Homo sapiens: one gene and its partners. The protein of the gene in region 6 purifies or fractionates together with the protein of the main gene of each other region. This does not show direct contact. Each region holds a gene or a part of one and is shown on either strand. Other genes may lie near its edges.

Evidence for each region.
Region 1: the proteins of TPRA1 (region 6) and SNX13 purify together in Homo sapiens (affinity purification with mass spectrometry; 2 studies listed by BioGRID and IntAct, with this or other methods). This does not show direct contact.
Region 2: the proteins of TPRA1 (region 6) and TMEM143 purify together in Homo sapiens (affinity purification with mass spectrometry; 2 studies listed by BioGRID and IntAct, with this or other methods). This does not show direct contact.
Region 3: the proteins of TPRA1 (region 6) and SLC30A6 purify together in Homo sapiens (affinity purification with mass spectrometry; 2 studies listed by BioGRID and IntAct, with this or other methods). This does not show direct contact.
Region 4: the proteins of TPRA1 (region 6) and ATP13A3 purify together in Homo sapiens (affinity purification with mass spectrometry; 2 studies listed by BioGRID and IntAct, with this or other methods). This does not show direct contact.
Region 5: the proteins of TPRA1 (region 6) and SLC30A5 purify together in Homo sapiens (affinity purification with mass spectrometry; 2 studies listed by BioGRID and IntAct, with this or other methods). This does not show direct contact.
Region 7: the proteins of TPRA1 (region 6) and CLN3 purify together in Homo sapiens (affinity purification with mass spectrometry; one large-scale study listed by BioGRID and IntAct). This does not show direct contact.

Annotation. Positions count from the first base shown.
Region 1 is NC_000007.14:17,888,495-17,891,994, forward strand, and holds part of SNX13 (sorting nexin-13), read right to left. Parts: intron 3,142-3,500; coding exon 3,052-3,141; intron 1,991-3,051; coding exon 1,869-1,990; intron 295-1,868; exon of another isoform or gene 66-294; intron 1-65. UniProt on the Homo sapiens protein: May be involved in several stages of intracellular trafficking. May play a role in endosome homeostasis. Acts as a GAP for Galphas.
Region 2 is NC_000019.10:48,332,941-48,336,440, reverse strand, and holds part of TMEM143 (transmembrane protein 143), read left to right. Parts: intron 1-2,243; coding exon 2,244-2,433; intron 2,434-3,007; coding exon 3,008-3,222; 3' UTR 3,223-3,500.
Region 3 is NC_000002.12:32,168,864-32,172,363, reverse strand, and holds part of SLC30A6 (zinc transporter 6), read right to left. Parts: intron 1,078-3,500; coding exon 991-1,077; intron 1-990. UniProt on the Homo sapiens protein: Has probably no intrinsic transporter activity but together with SLC30A5 forms a functional zinc ion:proton antiporter heterodimer, mediating zinc entry into the lumen of organelles along the secretory pathway.
Region 4 is NC_000003.12:194,428,003-194,431,502, forward strand, and holds part of ATP13A3 (polyamine-transporting ATPase 13A3), read right to left. Parts: intron 3,225-3,500; coding exon 3,102-3,224; intron 3,021-3,101; coding exon 2,941-3,020; intron 2,314-2,940; coding exon 2,271-2,313; intron 2,180-2,270; coding exon 2,070-2,179; intron 1,773-2,069; coding exon 1,676-1,772; intron 916-1,675; coding exon 843-915; intron 1-842. UniProt on the Homo sapiens protein: ATP-driven pump involved in endocytosis-dependent polyamine transport. Uses ATP as an energy source to transfer polyamine precursor putrescine from the endosomal compartment to the cytosol.
Region 5 is NC_000005.10:69,114,514-69,118,013, forward strand, and holds part of SLC30A5 (proton-coupled zinc antiporter SLC30A5), read left to right. Parts: intron 1-723; coding exon 724-894; intron 895-1,412; coding exon 1,413-1,701; intron 1,702-1,880; coding exon 1,881-2,089; intron 2,090-2,725; coding exon 2,726-2,883; intron 2,884-3,500. UniProt on the Homo sapiens protein: Together with SLC30A6 forms a functional proton-coupled zinc ion antiporter mediating zinc entry into the lumen of organelles along the secretory pathway.
Region 6 is NC_000003.12:127,577,234-127,580,733, forward strand, and holds part of TPRA1 (transmembrane protein adipocyte-associated 1), read right to left. Parts: intron 2,931-3,500; coding exon of another isoform or gene 2,914-2,930; coding exon 2,789-2,913; intron 2,640-2,788; coding exon 2,507-2,639; intron 1-2,506.
Region 7 is NC_000016.10:28,485,575-28,489,074, forward strand, and holds part of CLN3 (battenin), read right to left. Parts: intron 3,089-3,500; coding exon 3,017-3,088; intron 2,168-3,016; coding exon 2,088-2,167; intron 1,968-2,087; coding exon 1,882-1,967; intron 1,077-1,881; coding exon 1,004-1,076; intron 917-1,003; coding exon 773-916; intron 1-772.

The DNA of each region.
Region 1 (3,500 bases), on a different chromosome or scaffold from region 6:
AAAATACCAAACTTAAGAACAATTTGATTCTAACTCACTAGATAACATTAGACTAACCACTTTACCTTTCTGGACCTTAGCTTCCTCATCAGTAAAATTATGGGTGTTGGATGGCATAAAAACTTAAATTTCTAAATTCCTTCACAATTTTCAAAACACTGTCACAGGTATTTCATTTCACTCCACTGAGCAGGGACTTTGTTTTATTCACTGCTGTATCCCCAGCATCTGGTTGGTACAAAGTATGCCCAAAATATTAGTTGAATAAGATGAATTTTGATCCTGACAATTATCCTGAGAGGAACACAGAACAGGGCAGTTATTATTACACTTATTTTACATATGAGAAAAACCAAGGTTCAGAGTTTAAAGACACTTGCTCACAGTCCCATAGCTAGAGGTGGAGCTAGAATGCAAACTCAAGTTTTCAGATTACTAGTTCAAATCTCTTCCCAGGTCTAAAATGTGTTACACATTTTTATATATTTTTCAATAGTCAGGCACAAGAATAATGAATTCTTCCTATTCTCACCCTTTCAAAGAAAAAAAAAGTCATCAGGATAGTGTTGCTATAGAAAGCAATAAAAAATATTTAGAAGAGTTATCTGAAAGAATACCTAACACTCAATAATGGTGCATATGAAATAAAAGAGATTAAATTCAAATTCTGACTTTCTTTGATTATACCAATTATATGTTCTGTGTTCCACAGTGAGTCTGCATCTGTAATTCTGGCTGGCTACTTTGTAAATTCTTGCTCCTAATCACGAGGGATGAGGAGTACAAATCTATCTCTGTAACAATTATTGTTCAAATCATAAAACTTGTGCCAGGCTCCCCAATGAGGTTGGGAAACACATCCAATGCCCTTCCTCTAGCCAACTCCAAATCTAAAGCTTTATAATCAATGGAGATAGAGGAAAGGGCCTGAGAGGGCAGCATGGCTGGAAATACCTAGCAGGGCAATCTTTGCGTGTGATGGTAGCAACATATTTTAATGGAATAAAAAAAAAAAATCTACAAACTCATCCAAACATAAAATCTTTCTTTCAAAAATAAATAATTTCTAGAACACAAGTATTCCCTTTCACATAACGTTGCCCATTAAAAGGCTTTCAAAAAGTTAGACATCAAGGATGGAGGGGAAAAAAAGCCTTCAAAAATAAAAATGAAAGTAAACATAATTTAAACAGGTGTGAAATAGCCTCCCATCAAAAAAAATCAAGCAGTTTAAGTACAAGAATAGAAGTCAAAACACTTTCATCATATGGGAAGCAGTATATAGCTGGTTTGTAAAGTAAGAATTTTAGTATATCTGACAAAAAAAGTTTGTTAAAACAAACTCACCAAAATATACTTCTTTTCTGAAAAATATAAACTTGAATATTTTCCACTGACTTATGTTCCTTTGGTCCCTTCTCGTCCAAGAGGACTTCCAATAGATATGTGTCATAATTAGGAGAAGGGTTACAGCAAAACTATGTGGAGAAGAGCAGTTACACTGAAACTAATCTATTTTCATAGCACTCACATAAAACAGAGGGTCTAGGGAAGGGGGAGGGGGGAAGTAGCAATAAGTGGGGTAACAGATTTGAAAAGTCACCTGATTTGGACCCTAAAGAAAAAACTACCAAACAGACTTAGAAAGCAGGGCTTAATCAAAATAACATTCTGTAAAAACCTAAAATCTGGGGTAATTTAAAGGTTTTAAGAGCTCTAGTTGTAAAATCTTGGAGTTATCCCACAGTAATAATCTGCTGTTCTACTTACCTTTTAATAAACAATTCCTCCCCTTAAAAGTTGTTTTCCTTACTGGTACAAACCATACATCTAAATTTTTCTGCATAAATACAATGTCGTGTCCTTACCTAGTAGCAAACTGAATGAGTGCGTTTTGAAGAGTCTGCCTAATTTCAAGAAGAAAAGATTCATCATCGCTTAGTGTATAATACCAATACTGGACATAATCCCTCAAGGAAAACTGGATAACCTATAACAAAAATATTGGAAAAAAAATTACAACATTTTAGGATTTAAAAAGTTACAGTGGTAAACTAAAAAAGTATGCTGTATCTACCAATTTATATTTACTCTCTACGTATTAATTTATGGTGGTAAATACCTGCCCTCATTACAAAAACATCAACATACTAAAAACCATTTCAAACATTTTTAAATTATTCTGGTATCCCAACTTACCTACTGCCTAGATTTAAAAAAAAAAATAAAATAAAACACTATCTATGGCCAAGTCCCACATAAATCCAGGTAAAGACAGGGTTTGCAGAAAAAAAAGAAACTTTCCATGCTATAATCTAATAAATAATATCAATCAGTTTAATGGAATGAGATGTAAAATAATAGAGACTATAATTCCACAAAAAAAGTTTTTTTAAAGATTATATCATCAGATCCATTGCAGTCTAATTATAAAAATGATACAGGAGTTCACTTATTTCTACTAATACCTTTGATACTGCCAACAGTATTCAGACAATAAATAGTACATAATACAACTCAATGTATAATTTTTACAAATCAGATAAACTAAATATTAGTAATAATAATAAATGTTAAAATTCTAAAGTACACATTTTTATAATCATATAATCAAACATCAATGAAAAATATTTCAGGGGGCATAGTTTTTTTACCTATCTCTAATTTTTTAATGTTTTTGCATCGGATATTTCTTTTCCATTTTTTAAAAGGTAACAAGTAGGAAAAAAAGTCTGATTTACCACACCACTAAGCTTGTTCATCAACGAAAGAGTAACACTTTAACTGTAAAATTTTAAGAAACACTATCAAATGTCAATAACAACTTTTTTTCTAAATCCAAATTCAATCGAAAGGCTTTTACATAAAGTAAACCACCTCATTAGAAGTGAGTTAATAAATAAGGAAGCATCTTCAAGTATAAAATTCAAGGATAACATTAAGAAATTCCAGGATATTATTTAAAGAGCAAAAAGTATTTCCTGGTATCTTCAAAAGAAATATACCTAGAACACAATATATAGAATTCAAATACCACACGCTGAAACTCACTTGCTGGAGAGGTTCATCAATTATATTGGCACCCGTCAATCTTCTATCAATCTTAATAGTCCTGGCTTCCCGTTTCATTTCTTCTAAGCACTTAAAGGAAATCAAAATATCTTACTGAGTAGTTTTCTGATGTAAAATCTCTCCAGTTTAATTCCAGTTGAATACTCAATGTAACATCCCTTCATTATCCTCAAGTAAATAAATAACCTTATTTGAGGTGCTACTCTATAAGCCAAACACTATTTCTCAAGTTAACAAAATTAGACACTCCCAAAAAAATGATTATCCTCAAAAATTTAATCAGCAAAAATTATTTAGAATGTGGGAAAACTGCAAATGTACAGGTATGCTGCTGCCATATTTCAATGAAACTCTACAACTATAAAATTAGTGTTTCATGTGAGTCAAACTGTCTTTACTGGACACTCTCCCTCTTGCCCCTCCCCTTT
Region 2 (3,500 bases), on a different chromosome or scaffold from region 6:
CGACTCTCCTGCCTCAGCCTCCCAAGTAGCTGGGATTACAGGTGCCTGTCACCATACCTGACTAATTTTTTTTTTTTGTATTTTTAGTAGAGACAAGGTTTCACCATGTTGGCCAGGCTGGTTTCGAACTCCTGACCTCAAGTGATCTGCCCGTCTCGGCCTCCCAAAGTGCTAGAATTACAGGCATGAACCACCGTGCCAGGTCTAATTTTTGTATTTTTAGTAGAGATGGGGTTTCACCATGTTGCCCAGGTTGGTCTCGAACTCCTAACCTCAAGTGATCTGCCCTCCTCATCCTCCCAAAGTGCAGGGATTACAGGTGTCAGCCACTGCATCTGGCCTGGGCACAGTTTTTCAGTGGGAGCCCAGAGGGCACTGATGCCCTCATTTCTCCTTACCAATATCAAGGATGAGAAGAGGGGTCCAAGCAAAGAGACTAACGGTGGGGAAGTGGGCAGCCAGTAGACAGCTGGGCCCAGACCTGTTCTTCCCCCCAACATCCTTCCCCTCTCCTCTTCTCTTTACAATTTAACTTTTTTCTTTTTTTGAGACAGGGTCTCACTCTGTTGCCCAGCCTGGAGTGCAGTGGTATGATCATGGCTCACTGTAGCCTCAGCCTCCTGGGTTCAGGTGATTCTCCTGCTTCAGCCTCATGAGTAGCTGGGACTACAGGTGCTCACCATCACACCCAGCTAATTATTATTATTATTATTTTTTGAGGCAGAGTTTCATTCTTGTTGCCCAGGCTGGAGTGCAATGGCATGATCTCGGCTCACTGCAACCTCTGCTTCCCAGGTTCAAGCGATTCTCCTGCCTCAGCCTCCCGGGTAGCTGGGATTACAGGCATGAGCCACCATGCCCGGCTAATTTTGTATTTTTAGTAGAGACGGGTTTCTCCATGTTGGTCAGGCTGGTCTCGAACTTCCAACCTCAGGTGATTCACCTGCCTTGGCCTCCCAAAGTGCTGGGATTACAGGCGTGAGCCACTGAGCCCAGCCTGCTATTGTTTTTTAATTTTAATTTTTTGTAGAGATGAAGCTTTTGCCATGTTGCCCAAGCTGGTCTTGAACTCCTGGGCTCAGGTGATCCACCCACCTTGGCCTCTCAGCGTTGGGATTACAGGCCTGAGCCACTGCACTTGGCCTACAGTTTAATATTTTAAACCATTTTTTCCTTCATTATAGAAAAGTTCAAACAAACACAGAAATAGGATAGTATGATAAACTCCACTAGCCAGCACCTAGCATCAACAATTAGCAATAGTTAATCAGATTTCCCCTGAAGACCTCCACTGTCCTACTATTGGATGATTTTGAAGTAAATCCTACCTAGACTTATTTGGAAATACTTTATTATGTCTCTAAAACATAAGGATGTATTGTAACAAAATCTTTCAAAGCTAAAACTCCTATCATCTGCAAACCTTTGGGTAAATCCATTAATACATGGCTCAGATGAGCAAACCAGTGCAGTGGTTGCTGAAAACTGTAGGCCAGATGGGGCTGGTGGTCTTGGAGCCACTGGAATGAGGGCACGTGTGTTAAAAATACAGATCCCCAGCCGGTGCCTTGGGTCACGCCTGTAACCCCAGCACTATGGGAGGCTGAGGAGCGAGGATCACTCCAGGCTGGGAGTTTGAGACCAGCCTGGTCAACACAGGGAGAATCCCGTCTCTACAAAAAATATCGGGCTTGGTGGCGCACACCTGTAGTCCCAGCTACTTAGGAGGCCAAGGCGGGAGGATCGCTTGAGCCCGGGAGTTCAAAGCTTCAGTGCGTTATGAGTTTGCCTGTGAATAGCCACTGAACTCCAGACTGGGCTACAGGGCGAGACCCTGTCGAAAAAAAAAAAAAAAGGAAAGAAAAGAAAGAAAGGAAGGAAGGAAGAAAAAGAAAGAAAGAAAAGAAAAGAAAGAAAGAGAAAGAAAGAAAAGAAAGAAAGAACGAAAGAAAGAAAGAAAAAGAAAGAAAGAAAGAAAGAAAGAAAGAAAGAAAGAAAGAAAGAAAGAAAGAAAGAAAGAAAGAGAGAAAAAGAAAGAAAAAGAAAAGACAGACCCCAAAAATCCCCAAATAGATCCCTCGACTGAGCTCTGGGGACCCGTACTGAAGAGGTCTGGGTAGGACCTCCCCGCCTCCTCAGGGGAGTAAGCGGCGTGGGCCGTGCCAGCGGGGGTGACCCCGGGGGCTGTGTATGGGTGGGGGCGCACCCCGAACTGAGCCCACGGGGCGCTGTCCCGCCTGCAGATGTTCGGGCAGCGGCGCAGCGCGCAGGCGTTGGAGCTGGCGCACATGCTGTACTATCGCAGTACGTCCAACAACTCGGAGCTGCTCAGCGCCCTGGCCCTGCGCGCGCAGGACGAGCACACCAAGGAGGCGCTGCTGGCTCACAGCTTCCTGGCCCGGCGGCCAGGGGGCACTCAAGGCTCGCCCGAAGGTAGGACGTGGCCCTGGGACCCTGCCCCCAGGGGCCACACCCCCGCGAGGCCCCGCCCCAGCGAGATGCGTCCCCACCCCCAGTTCCCACGGGTGAACCTGACGGGTTTGCGAAGAGACCCCGGCCCTCAGCAGACAGGACCTCCGAATCCAGACTCCGATCTTGGTGCCTGATGTGACAGCCCTTTCTTAACCTCAGCCTGGTTGGGAGTCTTGGCTCCATGGCACGGCCCCCTCCTGTCATTCTTTCCTCTACCTGAGCTGACACTCTCCCTACAAGAGATCCTGCGCGCTCCCTGTGTGGGCTCCAGGTGGTCCCCTTGCCTACAGGAGCCCCCACCTTCCCTGCCCAAGAGCCCCTGACTGGTCCCCAGACGAAAGCCCCAGAGCTGGGCCTTCTGGCCCTCTCGACCCTCCTGGGCCTTGTTCCGCTCCCCTCCAAGCCTCAAGATCACTCCTAGGCTTCTCCCAAACCCAGGCCCTTCCTGTTCTTTGCCCTACGCCCCTCCTTGCTGCTCCCTCGAATCTTCCCCGATCTCAGTGTGACCTCAGAACACCTGCCTCTCCCCTTGCAGAGACCTCCAGGTGGCTCCGGTCGGAGGTGGAGAACTGGCTCCTAGCCAAGTCAGGCTGTGAGGTGACCTTCAACGGAACTCGGGCCCTGGCGCATCTGCAGGCCCTGACCCCCAGCATGGGATTGTACCCACCCCCGGGTTTCCCCAAACTAGACCCAGTGGCTCCGATCACTTCCGAGCCCCCGCAAGCCACGCCCAGCAGTAACATCTCCTGAGTAGAACCTACCTCCCTGCCCAGTCAGCAGGCTAGGAACTAAGCCCCGCCTCCTTCACGACAGGCTGTCAATTACGGTTATTATACTTTTCACTCCAACTTCCAATAACTGACAGGTGATTATTTTTGCTGCACTGTGTGCTTAAGCAAAGCAGCCAATCAAAGCAGCTAGCAGTTGTTAAGTCTTCCCCGCCCCTTCGATGAACAGCCAATCAAAGCGATTTAGCTCTGCTTCTGTTCCATTTCTTAGTCCCACCCTCACCATAAACATCCAAGTGT
Region 3 (3,500 bases), on a different chromosome or scaffold from region 6:
TGATGGAGCATAGAATCTAAGTTGGATAAGGAAGCAAATGAGGATAACGGAGTTGAAAAATAGTGAAAATATGGCAGAGTTTCAATTGGAGTGCCCATTGGTACTGCTTATTATTGTTTCATTGAAGCTGGCTTTACTTAAAAGTCATCAAATATTTACTGAATGTTTATATTGTACTTCTATAAAAAGGTGAGCAAAATAGAGACAGTCACTTCCCTCAGAGAGTTTATCATTTAGACAACAATGAGAAGCATGAAACACAGTAACTAGAAGGTTTACATTGGTGGCCTAAAAGGATGGCAATTACATCTTTTTATTTACAGTCTCAAAACATATTTTTCTTGCCCTACATTAAAAATGAGAAAACATGGGCCAGGCACGGTGGTTCACGCCTGTAATCCCAGCACTTTGGGAGGCCGAGGTGGGCGGATCACCTGAGGTCGGGAGTTCGAGATCAGCCTGACCAACATGGTGAAACCCCATCTCTACTAAAAATACAAAAAATTAGCCGGGCGTGGTGGCCCATGCCTGTAATCCCAGCTACTTGGGAGGCTGAGGCAGGAGAATCGCTTGAACCCGGGAGGCAGAGGTTGCGGTGAGCCAAGATCATGCCATTGCACTCCAGCTTAGGCAACAAGAGTGTAACTTCATCTCAAAAAAAAAAAAATAAATAAAAGAGAAAACATGGCTTTAGACTGGATCCATTTAATTTTTTGAAAACTTAATAACAAAAAGCAACCACAAAACCATTTTTCTTTAAAACACTTCAGAATTAGAATCAAAACTTTAACAGAAGCTTCCTACCAAAGTAAAACAACTTAACACCAAACAACTGCAATTTTACACTAAAAAAATACTTTTCCAACATAGAAAAATGAAAACAGTGTGGCAGGATCAGGAGTGATTTCTATTGGCCTTAAAAATTATCTTTCTTCAATGTTATAATGTTGTTTGTGCAATAATTAAAATTGGGGTTAAGGAATAACTTACCCTTCGGTCAGCTGCTACAAGTCTAAATTCCCGTAACAACTTGCCAAAAAAGGATCTTTGTGGTTTTCGAAAGAGATGAATTGTCCCCTTTCAAACAAACATATACAAATCAGCATTTAGATATTTAATCATCTTCAGAGTTCCTATGATATGATATAGTGGTTCCTATGATATAAATAACCAATATTTATTAAGTACTCAATATACATCAAGCACTTATTCTAGACACTTTATGTGTATTTATGGATTTAATATTCACAATAAACCTATGTGGTGGAGACAACTTTTAGTAAGTCATCCAAAGTCACAGAGCTAGTAAATGGCTGAGCAGAAATTCAAACCCAGGCTTTTTAGCTCCAGACCACACTCTTTATTTTTAAATGGATAAGGCAACTTGAACTGAAAAAGAAATAGTTTGCCAAATAGCTCTACTGGAAATTTCTACTGAAAATTCACCTAATTAAAGCTATATATGTGGTTGTGCTTGGGGCTCATGCCTGTAATGCCAGCACTTTGGGAGGCCGAGGCAGAGGGATAACTTGAGGCCAGGAGTTTGAGACCAGCCTGGCCAACATGGCAAAACCCTGTCTCTACTAAAAATATAGAAATGAACTGGGTGTGGTGGTGCACACCTGTAATACCAGCTACTCAGGAGGCTGAGGCGTGAGAATCTCTTGAGCCTGGGAGGTGGAGTTTGCAGTGAGTCAAGATTGTGCCACTGCACTCTGGCCTCGGTGACAGAGTGAGACTCTGTCTCAAAAAGAAAGTAAGTTCAGGCAACTATTATAGTAAAACCCCTGAGATTCTCTCTTAGGCATTCAGTCAAAGTATCTGACATCCTGGCTAGTCTCCCTGGCCCCTGCTAGTGTATAGTTAGTTTGGGGATAGTAAAGATAGGGCTCACCAATGAGAGAGGAGACCAAGTGGCAACTAGAGGGGATTAACCACCCAAGTTTAGGAAATCACATGGGAAAGCCTTAGCAGAACAGAGAGTTCAAACACATATGAGAAATTAACTTATGAGAAAAGCAGTATCCAATATCACTGGGAGAAAATATAAGCCAGTCAATAAATGGTATTTTGATCAAGGTAATGTTTCACCCTTACCGTTACTCCTTACTCTGTTGTTATTTTTAAAAATAAAATACAGATTTATAGAGTACTTGACTGAAGAAAGTCTAGATGTATTATTTTATAATCTGGGAGTTGGGGGAAGCCTTTCTTAATAGGGCATAAAACCCAAGAAGCTCTAAAGGAAAAAAATTGATTGATTTTACTATATAATTTCATGGGCGAATGTAATACCCTTAAGGGGGAAAAAAACTTTAAGAAGGTCAAACTGAAAAAAAACTATAATTCACAACAGACAATAGGCCAATTTTCTCTATACACAATGAGCTTCCACAAACTATTTTTAAAAAGATGAATAACCCAGTTTTAAAAGTTACACATTTATAAAGCTGGCCAAATCAGTACCTGCTCATTATTCACATTTGCTTTTGCAACTTTGTATTGTTAATGTGAAATCATGATTTCTCTTGATACTTTAAAAATAAAAATGGTATGCCTCTCCCTATACACAGTCACATCCATCTCTTGAACCTCAGTTCCAGCTGCTTTTGAGGAGGACAGTCTGATTTTAAATATAGGCTACACGGCAAACAGGATATTCACTCTGTCGCAGCCCCATTCTGCGGTGAAGGAGTAGCTGGGACTACAGGTACCCACCACCACGCCCGGCTAATTTTTTTTTACCTTTAGTAGAGACGGGGTTTCACCGTGTTAGCCAGGATGGTCTTGATCTCCTGACCTCGTGATCCGCCCGCCTTGGCCTCCCAAAGTGCTGGGATTACAGGCGTGAGCCACCGCACCCAGCCAATAAATATATCTTTTTCTTGGCTGGCCATGGTGGCTCATGCCTGTAATTCCACCACTTTGGGTGACTGAGTCAGGAGGATCAGTTGAGCCCAGGAGTTCAAGACCAGCCTAGGAAATATACTGAGACCCTGTCTCTACAAAAAAATTGAAAAGAAAAAAATTAGCCAGGCATAGTGGTACATGCCTGTAGTCCCAGCTACTCAGGACACCAAGGTGGAAGGATCGCATGAGCCCGGGAAGTCAAGCAGTGAGCCAGGTTCACACTTTACTCAAGCCTGGGCAACAGAGCGAGACCCCATCTCGAAATAAATAAATAAATACATAAATAAATGTACATATGTATAAATATTATATATATGTGTATGTACATATGTATATATATTCTTTTCTTAAAGAATTATGTGTGAGTTATTTTGGTTCCAAAGATTTAAAAAATTCTCCTTAATACTGTTATTTTGGACATCTTCTGTTTAACCCTAGCCAACTTTAAGTTTCAGGTTAAGAGAATCAACAAGGTTTCTAAGAGGCAGAAAGCCACTTCTGATGCCATCCTGACAATGAAAATAAAACAAAAATCCTAATGTCATATCACTCTTCCCAAAATTATATTGGCTCGCCATTGCTATCAGAAT
Region 4 (3,500 bases), about 67 Mb from region 6:
TTGAGGTCAGGAGTTAGAGACTGGCCTGGCCAACATGGTGAAACCCCGATTCTACTAAAAATATAAAAATTAGCAGGGCATGATGGTGCACACCTGTAATCCCAGCTACTCAGGAGGCTGAGGCAGGAGAATCGCTTGAACTCGGGAGGCGGAGGTTGCAGTGAGCTGAGATCGTGCCACTGCACTCCAGCCTGGGTGACAGAGACAGACTCTGTCTCAAAAAAAAAAAAAAAAAGAAAAAAAGAAATTTCTATTTTTCCCTTTGTAACTAGCACCTTGTGAAAAGATACTTTGAGACTGTGAAAATCCTGCTCCTCATCAAACTTTCACTAGTTTTATCATCTACTAAAGATAAGTGGTTCTCAACTGGAGGATTTTGCACCCCAAAGGAGCATCTGGCAATGTCTGGAGATATTTTTTGTTCTAATCTAGGGGACTACGGGAAAATAGGCATAAAGGACATTGTTGACACAAATGACAAAACCTGAATATAGGTTTTGCACCAGATATTATATCAATGTTAAATTTCCTGATCTTTACAACTGTATTTAGTTACATAAAAGAATGGTTTTGCTTTTAGAAAATATATACTAAAATTGTCAGAGGCAAAAGAGCATAATGACTCAAAACTTATTTTCAAATATTTCAGGGAAAAAAATAGAGACAGAACAATTAAAAAATTGGCGCAAGATATAAACAACTGGTAATAAAATAACATATTTACAAGGAATCTGGAGAGGTGTGAGCTATGTTACAATTGTTGATGTAAATTTACAAAAATTTAATAAGTCACATCAGAATTTCATACACTTTAAAAATCAATAACAAAGCAAAATACTCACTTGTAAATACCACTACCAAAATGATTGCCAGATCAATGAAGAGAAACTGGAAGTCTCCTAGGTTACTTAAGATCTACAGAAGTAATTTTAAAAACATTATTAGTTTTTGGGAATTATTTTTATAGCGTCCCCAGGTTTTATTAATAGTTTGGATTTTCCCTATAATGACAACTTAAAAATGACACTCGGACCTGCTTAAAAATTGAAATATAAGTGTCTCTGAAACTAAATATAACATATATTTATAAATATTTGATTTAGTATATTAGTATAAAAGGCATCTCCTTAAAATTCGTTCAATAGGCTGGGCGCGGTGACTCACACCTGTAATCCCAGCACTTTGGGAGGCCGAGGCGGGCAGATCACTAGGTCAAGAGATCGAGACCACCCTGGCCAACATGGTTTTTTTGGCAAAAAGAAAACACAAACATTTACTCAAAATATTCAACGTTGTAAATTAGTATCTTCATCTAATACCATCCCTTCTGATACTTTCTACAAACGGTCAAATGGGATAGTGTCACCATGAGTCTTTAGGATGTCAGAACACTTTGATTATAAAATCTGATAGGGTACCTGTGGCCATCGCTGTTTATACTTTTTCTCCAAATGCAAACCATTCTCCAAATTCAACAAACCACTGTTGAAACATCTTTTCTCATTTTAACTTTTTCAATTTGCTATTCAAACTACAGTAAATTGAAGGTAAATTTATAGGTACTACTCACAGAAACAATTACTAATGGATGCATTCAAAATCAAACACATACGCTCAACATCTTAATTTACGGTGCACATTAAGTGTTATCTCTGCACACAATGTTAATACTCACAGAATACAGCAGAGTAACACTGAAGTACTGGATAATGCTGTACAATGCCATGAATTTAAACACACAGAAGGAAGTTATTAAAGCAGCACGGCCTTCCCTGTGAAAAGAAATCAAATGTCGGCATATGAATAGAAGCATTTTAAACTCCTTTTCCAAACCACAATTTTATCTTGACAGATGAACATCAACATTCAACGGCTACAACAAAGTGCTTATCCACCAAAAGAACTAAACCAAATGAGGAGTAGCAATCAATCTGTTACTAATAAGTTACAGCTCAAATGTGCTAATCTGCTAATATTAAACAAATTCATGTTACTTTTTATGATAATTTTCTCTTCTGTATTATCAGAGACAGAGAAAAAGGGATGAGAAAAATTTTAATTTGTACTACCTGATAAGGTTTGGCACACAGGAAATACTAGGAGTCTTAGAGGTAAAGGGAGATGCCACTGAAGCTTCGAGCTCCGATAAGGAAATGCCTCCGTGTGCCCTCTTCAAAGCCTAATAATTTTAAGAAAACTGGTTAAGTTTTGTGAATATGATTTAGGCTAGAGTAAGAACTATAAAACTAAATCACAAAAACTATACTTACACCACAATCATTTGCGCCATCACCACACATCCCAACAAAATAACTAAGAAACAAAACAATGTTAAGATTTTAATTAATTTCTTAAACTACAAAACATTTAACTTATTAAGACTTTTCTATTACAGTATTATAAAGAGCTAACACACCAAGATTCCCCCAGTGGAACTATGAATCTTTTCACTATAATGAACACAGGTGTGCTGCTTTGCAAACAGCACCAGACCACAAGTGAAATGAGCTAGGTTATTGTCCTATTTCTGTCACATTATCGGCAAATCATTTTGGTGTCTCAATTTCCTCATCTTTAGAGCAAAGCGCTTGTGCCTACAGTCTTTAGTATGGCTACTTTTAACGTTATCAGTAAAAATTTATCCCTTAATAACCTGAAACATAACTGTTTACTAAAATGATTAGCCACTTCTATCAAGATAGAGCACCTGAAAGAATGAAGTCATAGAGAAAAAACTGTGGATATTGTACTTTAGCTAAATAAAAAGCACATGAGACTCTTTTAAAGCGGCACTTAAAGTTCTGAACTATCTTATAGATCACAATTATATATATAAATATGAAATATTAGTATAAGAAACATATAAAAATTATTTTTCTGATGCTGAAATGAAACCATCATTCATCAAAAACCAAAACCAAAAAAGACACCAATACTTACTCAACATTTTGCAATGCTTCTATCAACTGTGTCTTCTGATCAGGTGCCATACGGGCAAACACGGTGCCATGCAACATCAACTGGAAACAATAATACAAATTTTTTTAAAATACTGTTGCGATGCATTCATGTGAGCACACACATACACCCAAATTACTTACCTTAGGAACAAGGTCTTGAAAATGCTCCAGTATCACTGAGAATGATTTTCCATTCATTGCAAAATGATAACGAGTCATTTGAAGATCCTCTAAGCTATCATGGACCAATTTAACCGGAATAGCCTGTGTATATGAGACATTGGGAACAATATTTAGGCAACCAAACCAAGTAAAACAATTCTATTTTAAACATATTTGTTCTAAAACTGAATTCTTTCATTTGATATGTTCCACAACATGATGAAAGCCGGACATTTATTCAAAGTAAAAAGAAACTCAATTAAATATCAGCTTCAATTTGAAATGATGCATGAACTGAGTATGATGGACCACCTGCATCATTTACCACTAGTTACCTGAAGAATACGATAAACATCTGGAATTCTTGTACTTTAAAAC
Region 5 (3,500 bases), on a different chromosome or scaffold from region 6:
CTAACAGGATCAAAAGATTCTGAAAAGTTGTAGCAACTATAACTATAAAGGTACATTTAAAATAAATTATCAGCTGGGCCCAGTGGCTCACGCCTGAAATCCCAGCACTTTGGGGGCCAAGGCAGGTGGATCACCTGAGGTCGGGAGTTCAAGACCAGCCTGACTGACATAGAAAAACCCCATCTCTACTAAAAATACAAAATTAGCCAGGCATGGTGGCACATGCCTGTAATCCCAGCTCCTCTGGAGGCTGAGGCAGGAGAATCACTTGAACCCGGGAGGCCGAGGTTGCAGTGAGCCAAGGTCGCGCTATTGCACTCCAGCCTGGGCAACAAAAGCGAAACTCTGTCTCAAAAAAAATAAAATAAAATAATTATCAGTAAGTTATAACATTGCCGGCCATTTAAGTAGTTACGTAATTGAGTATATGGGAAAAATATACTAGTTCCATTTCCTTAAATATTATGTTAGCATGGTGTGGTGGTGTGTGCCAGTAGTCCCGGCTACTTGGGAGGCTGAGACAGGAGGATCTCTTTGATCACAGGAGTTTGAGGCTGCAGTGAGCTGTGATCATGCCACTATACTTCAGCCTGGGTGGCAGAGCAAGACCCTGTCTCTGGGGAAAAAAAAAAAAAAAAAAAAAAAAAAAAAAGATCATGTATTTAACGACTGACTGTTGAACTGTGTGTGTTTCTAATGAGACTTATCTAATTTTACTCACAGGGTGGAGTATTATTGCTAGTACTGGCTTTGTGTTGTAAAGTTGGTTTTCATACAGCTTCCAGAAAGCTCTCTGTCGACGTTGGTGGAGCTAAACGTCTTCAAGCTTTATCTCATCTTGTTTCTGTGCTTCTCTTGTGCCCATGGGTCATTGTTCTTTCTGTGACAACTGAGGTAAGATAAGAGCAAGAATTTATTGGTATTAAATTGCTAGTAAAATGAATTGCTATTAAATTTTTAGTTCACTGTATTCAATAAATTATATTTTAATTTGAGGTTGAAAGTGGCTTAAATTGTCTTTGCTTTTTCTTTGTAGTTTTTTAAAAAAAATTTGGAGTTAATTTTATTGTTTATAGAAAATACAAATCAAATGCTATTACATTTACATATCCCTCACATTGCTATGGCCCAAAGGAATCATTTGAAGAAGGAGCAATTAACCATGTGTTAGGCTTAAAGATTGTGTGTCGCCTAGTGTTCATCGAATGATTACACAATAGTGCTTTTGTTTTTTAAAACTTTGGAGAATACTGAGAAAATGTACCAATATCTTATAGCTTTTATATGTTGGCATATTATGAATCATATTGAATCATGCGATTTTTATTTTTTTAAAAGATTAACAGAAACATCTTGTAAGATGTGAACTTTATACATGTATAGTCTTGACAATTCTTTTTTTTAATTTCTAGAGTAAAGTGGAGTCTTGGTTTTCTCTCATTATGCCTTTTGCAACGGTTATCTTTTTTGTCATGATCCTGGATTTCTACGTGGATTCCATTTGTTCAGTCAAAATGGAAGTTTCCAAATGTGCTCGTTATGGATCCTTTCCCATTTTTATTAGTGCTCTCCTTTTTGGAAATTTTTGGACACATCCAATAACAGACCAGCTTCGGGCTATGAACAAAGCAGCACACCAGGAGAGCACTGAACACGTCCTGTCTGGAGGAGTGGTAGTGAGTGCTATATTCTTCATTTTGTGTAAGCATTCCCCCCTTTTTTTTATTTTAACAAATTTCTATTTATGGATTTTGATGGTCACATCATTTACTTATTTTGGGAAATTCTTCAGTGCTTGCATTTAGTGCCGACAGTTACTGTGTTGGTTTTGGTAGCTTAAACTTCGAAAATTTAAACAATATTGTTTTTTCTCTTTGTAGCTGCCAATATCTTATCATCTCCCTCTAAGAGAGGACAAAAAGGTACCCTTATTGGATATTCTCCTGAAGGAACACCTCTTTATAACTTCATGGGTGATGCTTTTCAGCATAGCTCTCAATCGATCCCTAGGTTTATTAAGGAATCACTAAAACAAATTCTTGAGGAGAGTGACTCTAGGCAGATCTTTTACTTCTTGTGCTTGAATCTGGTAAGATTTTTAAATGTTAATTGACATATCCTAAAAGCATAATATTTTAATTTTGACAGTTCTGGTATAAGTTTAGTACTTCCCAAATTTCTGATAATAAGATGAGCTAAAATTTAAATTTTTTCTAAGTATAATAGCAAGATTACGAGATCATATTCAGATTCCTTAGGCAATCCTTAAGGCATGTGCCACCGTGCCCAGCCACTTAAGCAAACAATTTGTGAGGCATTTTAGAAGCATTGATTTAGTATGTTCCTTCAAATCAGTAAATATAGTAGCATTTAAAGAGTTCTAATAACTTACAGGATCTCACTATTAGCAATCAGTGTTATAAATCACCTATTGCTAACATTTTATAACCTAGTTTATTATTTTTATAGACATATAAACAAAACCATTTTTAAATAGTTTCTAAAATGGATTTATCTTAGTTTTTTACAATTTAATAGTTTGTAAAATGGGTTTATCTTAGTTTTTACAATTTGTGTGAAATAGGGTTTCTAATGTAAGTGGCAGTTAAATAACTAAACAATTATAGCAGATCTTCAAGTAAATTTGGATAATTAAGGGTTAAAATCCTCCTAATTGAAACAGTGCCCAACATACTCCTCCCTTTTTTTTTGGTGACATTTTTAGCTTTTTACCTTTGTGGAATTATTCTATGGCGTGCTGACCAATAGTCTGGGCCTGATCTCGGATGGATTCCACATGCTTTTTGACTGCTCTGCTTTAGTCATGGGACTTTTTGCTGCCCTGATGAGTAGGTGGAAAGCCACTCGGATTTTCTCCTATGGGTAGGTACATTGACTGTCGAGGTGGTATATCTTAAGTGCAAATTCCATCTTAAGGAACAGAATTATATTACTTATATTACTTTTAATACAAATAATTTCCAAATCTTCATTTTTAAAAAATGTGAAGTAAATAAGGGGATGTGAATCGGGCATTTGATAAATACTGAATGGAATTAAGCTCAAAGATTATGCTCCCTTGGCCGAGCACAGTGGCTCACGCCTGTAATCCTAGCACTTTGGGAGGCCAAGGCAGGCGGATCACCTGAGGTCAGGAGTTCGAGACCAGCCTGGCCAACATGGTGAAACCTCGTCTCTACTAAAAATACAAAAATTAGCCGGGTATGGTGGCACGCACCTGTAGCCCCAGCTACTCGGGAGGTTGAGGCAGGAGAATCGCTTGAACCCAGAAGGCAGAGGTTGCAGTGAGCCAAGATCGTGCCACTGCACTCCAGCCTGGGCAACAGAGTGAGACTATGTCTCAAAAAAAAAAAAGACAGGGCCAGGTGCGGTGGCTCACGCCTGTAATCCCAGCACTTTGGGAGGCCGAGGCGGGCGGATCACAGGGTCAGGAGATCGAGACCATCCTGGCTAACACGGTGAAACCCCGTCTCTACTAA
Region 6 (3,500 bases):
CTCCAGGAAGCAAGGCTCACAGAGTTGCAGACCCTCAACTGCAGGTGACTTCCAGCCTGGCCCTCCCTCTCGGGGCCCCAGCTTCCTGGCTAGCACCAACAGCCTTGGGCTGGTGAGCAGGAGTGCGCATGGTGGAGCCAGATGGGCCAGGTTCACATCACAAGCAGCACGCTGCTGCTTCCTGGCTCTGTACCTTAGCTTTCTCATCTATAAAATGGGGGCAGAAACAAAACCTACTGTGTTTGATTGTTGGGTCAAATGGATTAACAGATGCAGCAGAAGCCTGCCTGGCACCCAGGAAGGGCCAAGTATACATTTGCTGTTATTACCGTATTCATGGTTTTAATTCTGAGGCATGCGGGACCAGGCAAAAGGTCACCGAGAAGAGGTGCAGAGACCTCTAGGGAAGCCACCAGCCCAGCAGGTTTCACAAAGTGCCTGCTCAGCATCTGTGGTGCTTATCGGCCTGGTATATCCATCCCCTTCCTCTCCCTTCTCACCCCCACTTCGGTGGTTCCAGGTGAGGCTGAGTCCACCGCTCCTGGCTTCAGGGATGGGCCTGGGACGCAGCACTGGCCAGTGGTGTGTGCCATTCCCCTGGCCTCAGGGCTAGTTCAGGGAAGGGCATAGGCCCCAAGGGAGCCTTGTGAGAGAGACCCAGGATGTCAGGTGGGGCTGCTGGGAAAGGCAGACGGACAGCATGCAAGCCTGGCACCATGGACACCACCCTGCTGCCACAAGGGCAGATGGCGAGAGAGCAGGGCCATCGGGGAGATCCCAGGCTGAGTGGGAGATGGAGATGGTGCCCCAGCAGCACTGCTGTGCCCCCAAATCCTGCTGTGCCTGAGGCCCAGGAACTGCCCAGTTTCTCAGTCAAAAACTGGCTTCTGTGAGTCTCAGTTGGGTCTTCTGACACATGCCCAGATCCATATATACTCTGTCTTTTGTGCCATGAGAAATTGTGTCAGCAGGGCAGGCAGTAAAAGCAACAAACTACCACACGCCTACTGTATGCCAGGCTCCCACTGGGCTGCAGCTATGCAGACGACTTCATAGGTGCTCACATGAACACCATAGCTAAAGCAGATCAACATCTGTTATGCAGAAGGGCACTGGGGCACAGAGAGACCAAGCCACTGGCCCCAGGTCACACAGCAGCATGGCTGGGGTTCAGAGCTGGACTTCCTGAGTCCACTCTTAACACTGCCTCCTGAACTCTTTAGGACAAAGTCCCCAAAAGTTGATGGGCTGGGCCCTGTTATATGTTCCTGGACATTTAGCCCTGGCTCTTTCTCCCTGCCTGCACTCCCCCTTACCCCACAAAAGGACATCTGCCTAGCATACAGTAGGTGTTTAATATCTGTTGAATAAATACACAAATGAATAAATGGTGAGAGAAGCAGTGGGAGAGAAGCAAAGAAAGCAGGCCTCAGTTCCCAGTCCTGTCTACCACCATCTTGTAGGTGTGAGGGACATCAGGCCACTACAACCTCCAGGCTTCCCCAGCCCCTTGTCTGTCTCTCTGCCTGCCCACAGCCCACTCCTCTGACTGGGAAGTTCTGGGCTAGACCACAAGGAGGGGACCAGGGAGCCACTCAGCTCTCATGTGGTGGTATCTAAGGGCCACAGAGAAGGGAGGACTCCAGTCAGGCAGGCCCTGCAGACAGGGGAAGGGCGCCCTGAAGGAAGGCAGCTGGACAGCCCACACCCGAAGCCCACACCAGGACAGCCCGCACCGGAAGCCTACACCTGGAGAGCCCACACCCGAAGCCCACACCTGGACAGCCCACACCTGAAGCCCACACCTGGCACCTATACTGGGACAGCCCACACCTGGAGCCTATACCAGGAGAGCCCACATTTGGAGCTGCCTTCTCAACCACAGCCCTGACACCTCTCCCCAGGCAACACGTGCCAGGACCACCAAGTGGTGACAATGCAGGCTCTCCCAGCAAGTAAGATGTCTTCTCCAAAGAGGTTTCACAGAATGGACAGATGGGGGACGAATGGATGGAGGATGCAGTGGGCATTTTCCCCACCCAGCATCCATTCCCCTCCCCTCTAGTACCAGCTCCCCAATTCTGTTGTGGGCTCCCTCAGTCCATATGGTCCAGCTGAGCTGATGCTGCCCTCCCAGCTTCACAGTGCCCCTTTCCTTGCTAGCCACAGTGCTTGGCTCAGGGATGAGGATGGGATCCTAGGTGGGCCAGTCAGAGGAAATCCCAGGTCTACACTGGCACTATCAGCAAACAGGCACTGTTTGCCTGAGTTGTAGAGGCAGGATGTTAGCTCAAAGTTGCTCCTGGCCATCTTTGACACCATATGAGGGGAACTCATCTGAGATAAGTCCCAAAGAGATCAGAGATGCAGAAACAGATCCTAACGATATCATTTAACTGCCTGGATCCAGCCATACCTGAAGCTTATTTTCATTATAGAAGCAGTTAATTCCCTTTTTGTTTAACCCAGTTGGAGTTGGCTTTTCTGTCAACTGCAGTGAACTCACCAGGATGTAGAAGGTGATAAAAATGGGGCTGGAGGTGATGCGGATCTTCGCCCGAGCAGATGGAAGCTTCCAGAGCAGGAAGATGAGGAAGAGCACATTGGGGATGAGCAGCAAGAGGTCCCAGTACCGGACCCTGGCGGATGGGCACAGGAGCTGGCTCACTGGCGAGGCCACATATGCACCCCCTCTCCAAGACACAATCTGCCCCACCCTCACCACCCCCCTACACCAGGAAAAGCCACTGACACTCAGCGAGCCTGCCCAGCGTTGTGACTGCCTCACCTGGAGGTGCCAATGTCTTCGTAGAGCAGCAGCAGGCAGCGATGAGGCACACTGATGTTTGGTGCCAGGGGTGGGGGTAGCGCTGTGCTCCCATTGGCCCAAGTCACCTCCTCCAGGGTGTCCATCCCGCCAGCAGCCAGCCCTGGGGGAGTGAGAGCCGCCCAGTGAGCTGTGTGGCCTGGGCCACTGTCCTCCTTCCCCTGGACCTGGGACTCCCAGGGGAAAATCAGAGGGGCTGCACAGAGCACCCCTGTAAACCACCCTCCCCACCCACTGCAGCTCAGTGTGGGGCTCCACACAGGTCACGACCCAATCCCCCAGGCAGGGGCCCAGTCCCCCATCTCAGGCTCTATCTCACGACCTGCAAATAGTCTAACAAAGCCACCCCCTCAGCTAAGCATCTCCATGTGCAAGGCACAGCCACTTGGCTCCTTTCAGTCCTGAGGGCCCATGAGAGCAGCGTGGGTAAGAGCATAGGCTCTGGGTTCACAGCCCAGCCCTGCCCCTTCCTTCCTGTCCTCTCCGTGCCTGTGTCCCCCCACCATGGAATGGGTGTAACAAGTGAGGCTGTGGTGATGCCGAGTGCCTCAAACAAGGCACACACGTGAGGAGTTCTTGGTAGCGGTCAGCCATGGTTCTGACCTGCCACACCATGCAGAACTCAGAGGCCACTGACTTGTGTGAGGCCACAGCGCTGCTGAGGGCCAGAGCT
Region 7 (3,500 bases), on a different chromosome or scaffold from region 6:
AAAAAAAAAAAAAAAAAAAAAAAAAGGGAGTCGCCATGGTTCAGGCCTGTTGCCCTGGCACTCAGGCAGGCAAGGCTACACATTCGAGGCCAACCTGGTCAACACTGATTAAAAAAAAAAAAAAAAAAAAAAGGAACTAATCAAATAAAGTCCACCCTCATCCTACTTCTAATCACCTTGGGAACCACACTGTGCTGAATGCATTACCCTCATCACCTCCAAGGAAAGCAAGAACAACTGCCATTTGAGATATGGGGAAACTGAGGGTTCAGAGAGGTGGAGTAACTTGTTCAACGCTACAAAGCTAAAAAGTGGCAGCTCCAGGACTCACACCTGGGGCTATCAGAGTCCAGATTCCGCCTCCCTTCACAGCAAGGTAGGGACTTGAAGATTGCAATCATAATCAAGTTTTCTTTTCTTTCTTTTTTTTTTTTTCTTCCTGAGACAGAGTCTAACTCTGTCGCCCGGGCTGGAGTGCAATGGCACGATCTCGGCTCACTGCCACCACTGCCTCCGGGGTTCAAGCGATTCTCCTGCCTTAGCCTCCTGAGTAGTTGGGACTACAGGCACCCGCCACCACACCTGGCTAATTGTTGTATTTTTAGTAGAGACGGGGTTTCACCATGTTGGCCAGGCTGGTTTCCTGACCTTAGGCGATCTGCCCTCCTTGGCCTCCCAAAGTGCTGGGATTACAGGCGTGAGCCACCACACCCAGCCATGGCCAAGTTTTCTCTCCTTGGACCCCTCTCCCTCCCGGCTCAGGGCAGCTCACCTGGCCAGCAGCAGGGCAGGGATACCCAGCATGGACAGCAGGGTCTGCTGAGGGGAGAGGCCGGCCTGGGTGAGGCCCAGGTAGGACAGGGCCCCCAGCAGCCCAGCTCCCCCAGTCCCTGAGGACCACCAGGAGATCACGGCCCTGGGAAGGAGAACACAGGAACATTCAGGAGGACCTAGGCTGACCATGGGACAGCCTCTCCCCACACTCCCTGCTCCACCTGCTTACCTGGGGTAGAAGGCAGTGAGGGAGAGGAAGGTGACCTCCCCAAGGCCTGATGAGATGCTAGCGAAGACCACACCTGGGGGGAGGACAAGCACTGGGATGGTCACACCACACCTTGCCACACTGCCCAGGCCTCTAATGTGTCTGGCCATGGCCTCCTCAGTATCAGCTCATAGAGGCTCCAATAGATCCCATGCATAGGCCAGGTTCCAGGTCTGAAGCAGAGCCCCACTCCCCTGCGTGTCCCTTCATGGAGAGTGGCACCTCCATCCACCCAGTTATCAGACCAGGGGCAGACATGCACCCTTGATGTCTCTGCCCCTTCATCAGTCTTTTTCTTTTCTTTTCTTTTTGGAGACGGAGTCTCGCCCTGTCACCCAGGCTGGAGTACAGTGGCGTGATCTCGGCTCACTGCAACCTCTGCCTCCCAGGTTCAAGAGATTCTCCTGCCTCAGCCTCCCGAGTAGCTGGGATTACAGGCTCCTGCCACCACACCCAGCTAATTTTTGTATTTTTGGTAGAGACGGGGTTTCTCCATGTTGGCCAGGCTGGTTTCGAACTCCTGACCTCAGGTGATCTGCCTGCCTTGGCTTTCCAAAGTGCTGGGATTATAGGCATGAGTCACTGTGCCTGGTCCATCACAGAGTCTTGACTTTGTTCACCTCAATCTCCATCTAATTCATCCATTTTCTCCCATCTCCTCCACTGCCTACCCCTCCAAATTGTCCCAGTCTCCCATCGCCTACTGCTGATAGCCCTAGCAGGCTTCTAAGGGTGACAGAATGAATCCCTTTCCTCTGGGAGGCTGGGGAGACTCTTCCCACAAATGCTCTGATGTGGTTCCTCGGGGCTCCCCATCTGACACAGAACCACACACTCACCACACAGGCTGGTCCCCACAGAATGAGAAAAGGCAACCAGGACGAAGCTTCCAGCAGCACAAATCCCACTGACGAGAACCCGGGGGCTGAGGGGGTGAGAAGGGAAGGGAGGGGGAAGGTCGGTCTCTACTCTCAGCATCTCAGCCATCCCAGCCTCCCCTTTCTCAGCTCCTGCCCACCCTGCCTCCCACTACCCTCACCCAGACCTGTAGGGCAGCAGGTGAAGGCCAAGAGGAGCCAACAATTTGATGACGAGTGTGGGGAGGATGTCCGCCAGGAGCACAGCCTGGGACAGGAGAATAGAGTGAGACCGCAGAGCTTCCAGGGGACAACCCTCCCAACCACGTGGCCAAGGAGAGGCAGGAGCTGGCCAAACAGGCCTGCTACAAACACAGGCTCTGGAGTCAGGCACGCCTGGGTTCAAGTCTCAGCTCTCCCACTCCTTAGTTGTGTGTCAAGAGTTTATACTCTCTGAGCTTCAGTTTCCTCATCTGGAAAATGGGAATATCATAGCACCTAGCTCACAGGACTGCTGTGTGGCTTAAATGAGCTAATATATGGTGCAGACAGAAAGGACTCAGAAACTATATATATATATATTTTGAGAGTGAGTCTCATTCTGCCACCCAGGCTGGAGTGTAGTGGCTCGATCTTGGCTCACTACAACCTCCACCTCCTGGGTTCAAGTGATTCTCCTGCCTCAGCCTCCTGAGTAGCTGGGATTACAGGCGTGCACCACCATGCCTGGCTAATTTTTGTATTTTTAGTACAGATGGGGTTTCACCATGTTGGCCAGGCTGGTCTTGAACTCCTGGTCTCAAGTGATCCATCCGCCTCAGCCTCAGAAATTATATTAAGGTCTCAATTATTTTATATATATATATTTTTTAATTTTTTTCTTTAAGATGGGGGTCTCACTATACTGCCCAGGCTGGTCTCAAACTCCTAGGCTCAAGTGATCCTCCCACCTTGGTCTCCCAAAGTGCTGGGATTACAAGTGTGAGCCAGTGCGCCCAGCCCAGGTCTCAACTGTTTTAATCATGACAGTCCCAGCTGGGTAGTGAAGGGCTGGGAGTGGGGTCTATAGACCCAGGGGCCCTGGGTCAGGCAAGGACCAGGTGAGATGAGTACGCACAGCCGTAGAGACAGAGTTGCAGTCAAATCGTGATGAGCTGTTGTGGGGGATCGGCGTTGGGCCTGGGTCCACCTAATGGGAGAAAAGCATGTCTTTCACCCTGGAGGCAGAGGGATAGACACACAGAGCCTGGCTCCCGTCCCAGCTCTGCCTTCACTTGAAGGATGGCTTTGGGTCAGCAGTGACTGACTTCTCAGGACCTCAGCGTCTCTGCATGCACAATGAAGAGGGGGTTTCCATATGAGTCTCACACTACTAGACCACAGGCCACAGATGGCCCTGTAAATGGACTTTGTTTAGATAACACATTCAAGAGCTTTCTTTTTTTTGAGATGGTGTCTCACTCTGTTGCCCAAGCTAGAGTGCAGTGGTGTGATCTTGGCTCATTGCAACTTCCACCTCCTGGCTTCAAGCAATTCTCCTGCCTCAGCCTCCTGAATAGCTCAGACTACAGGTGTGTGCCACCACACCCAGGTAGTTTTTG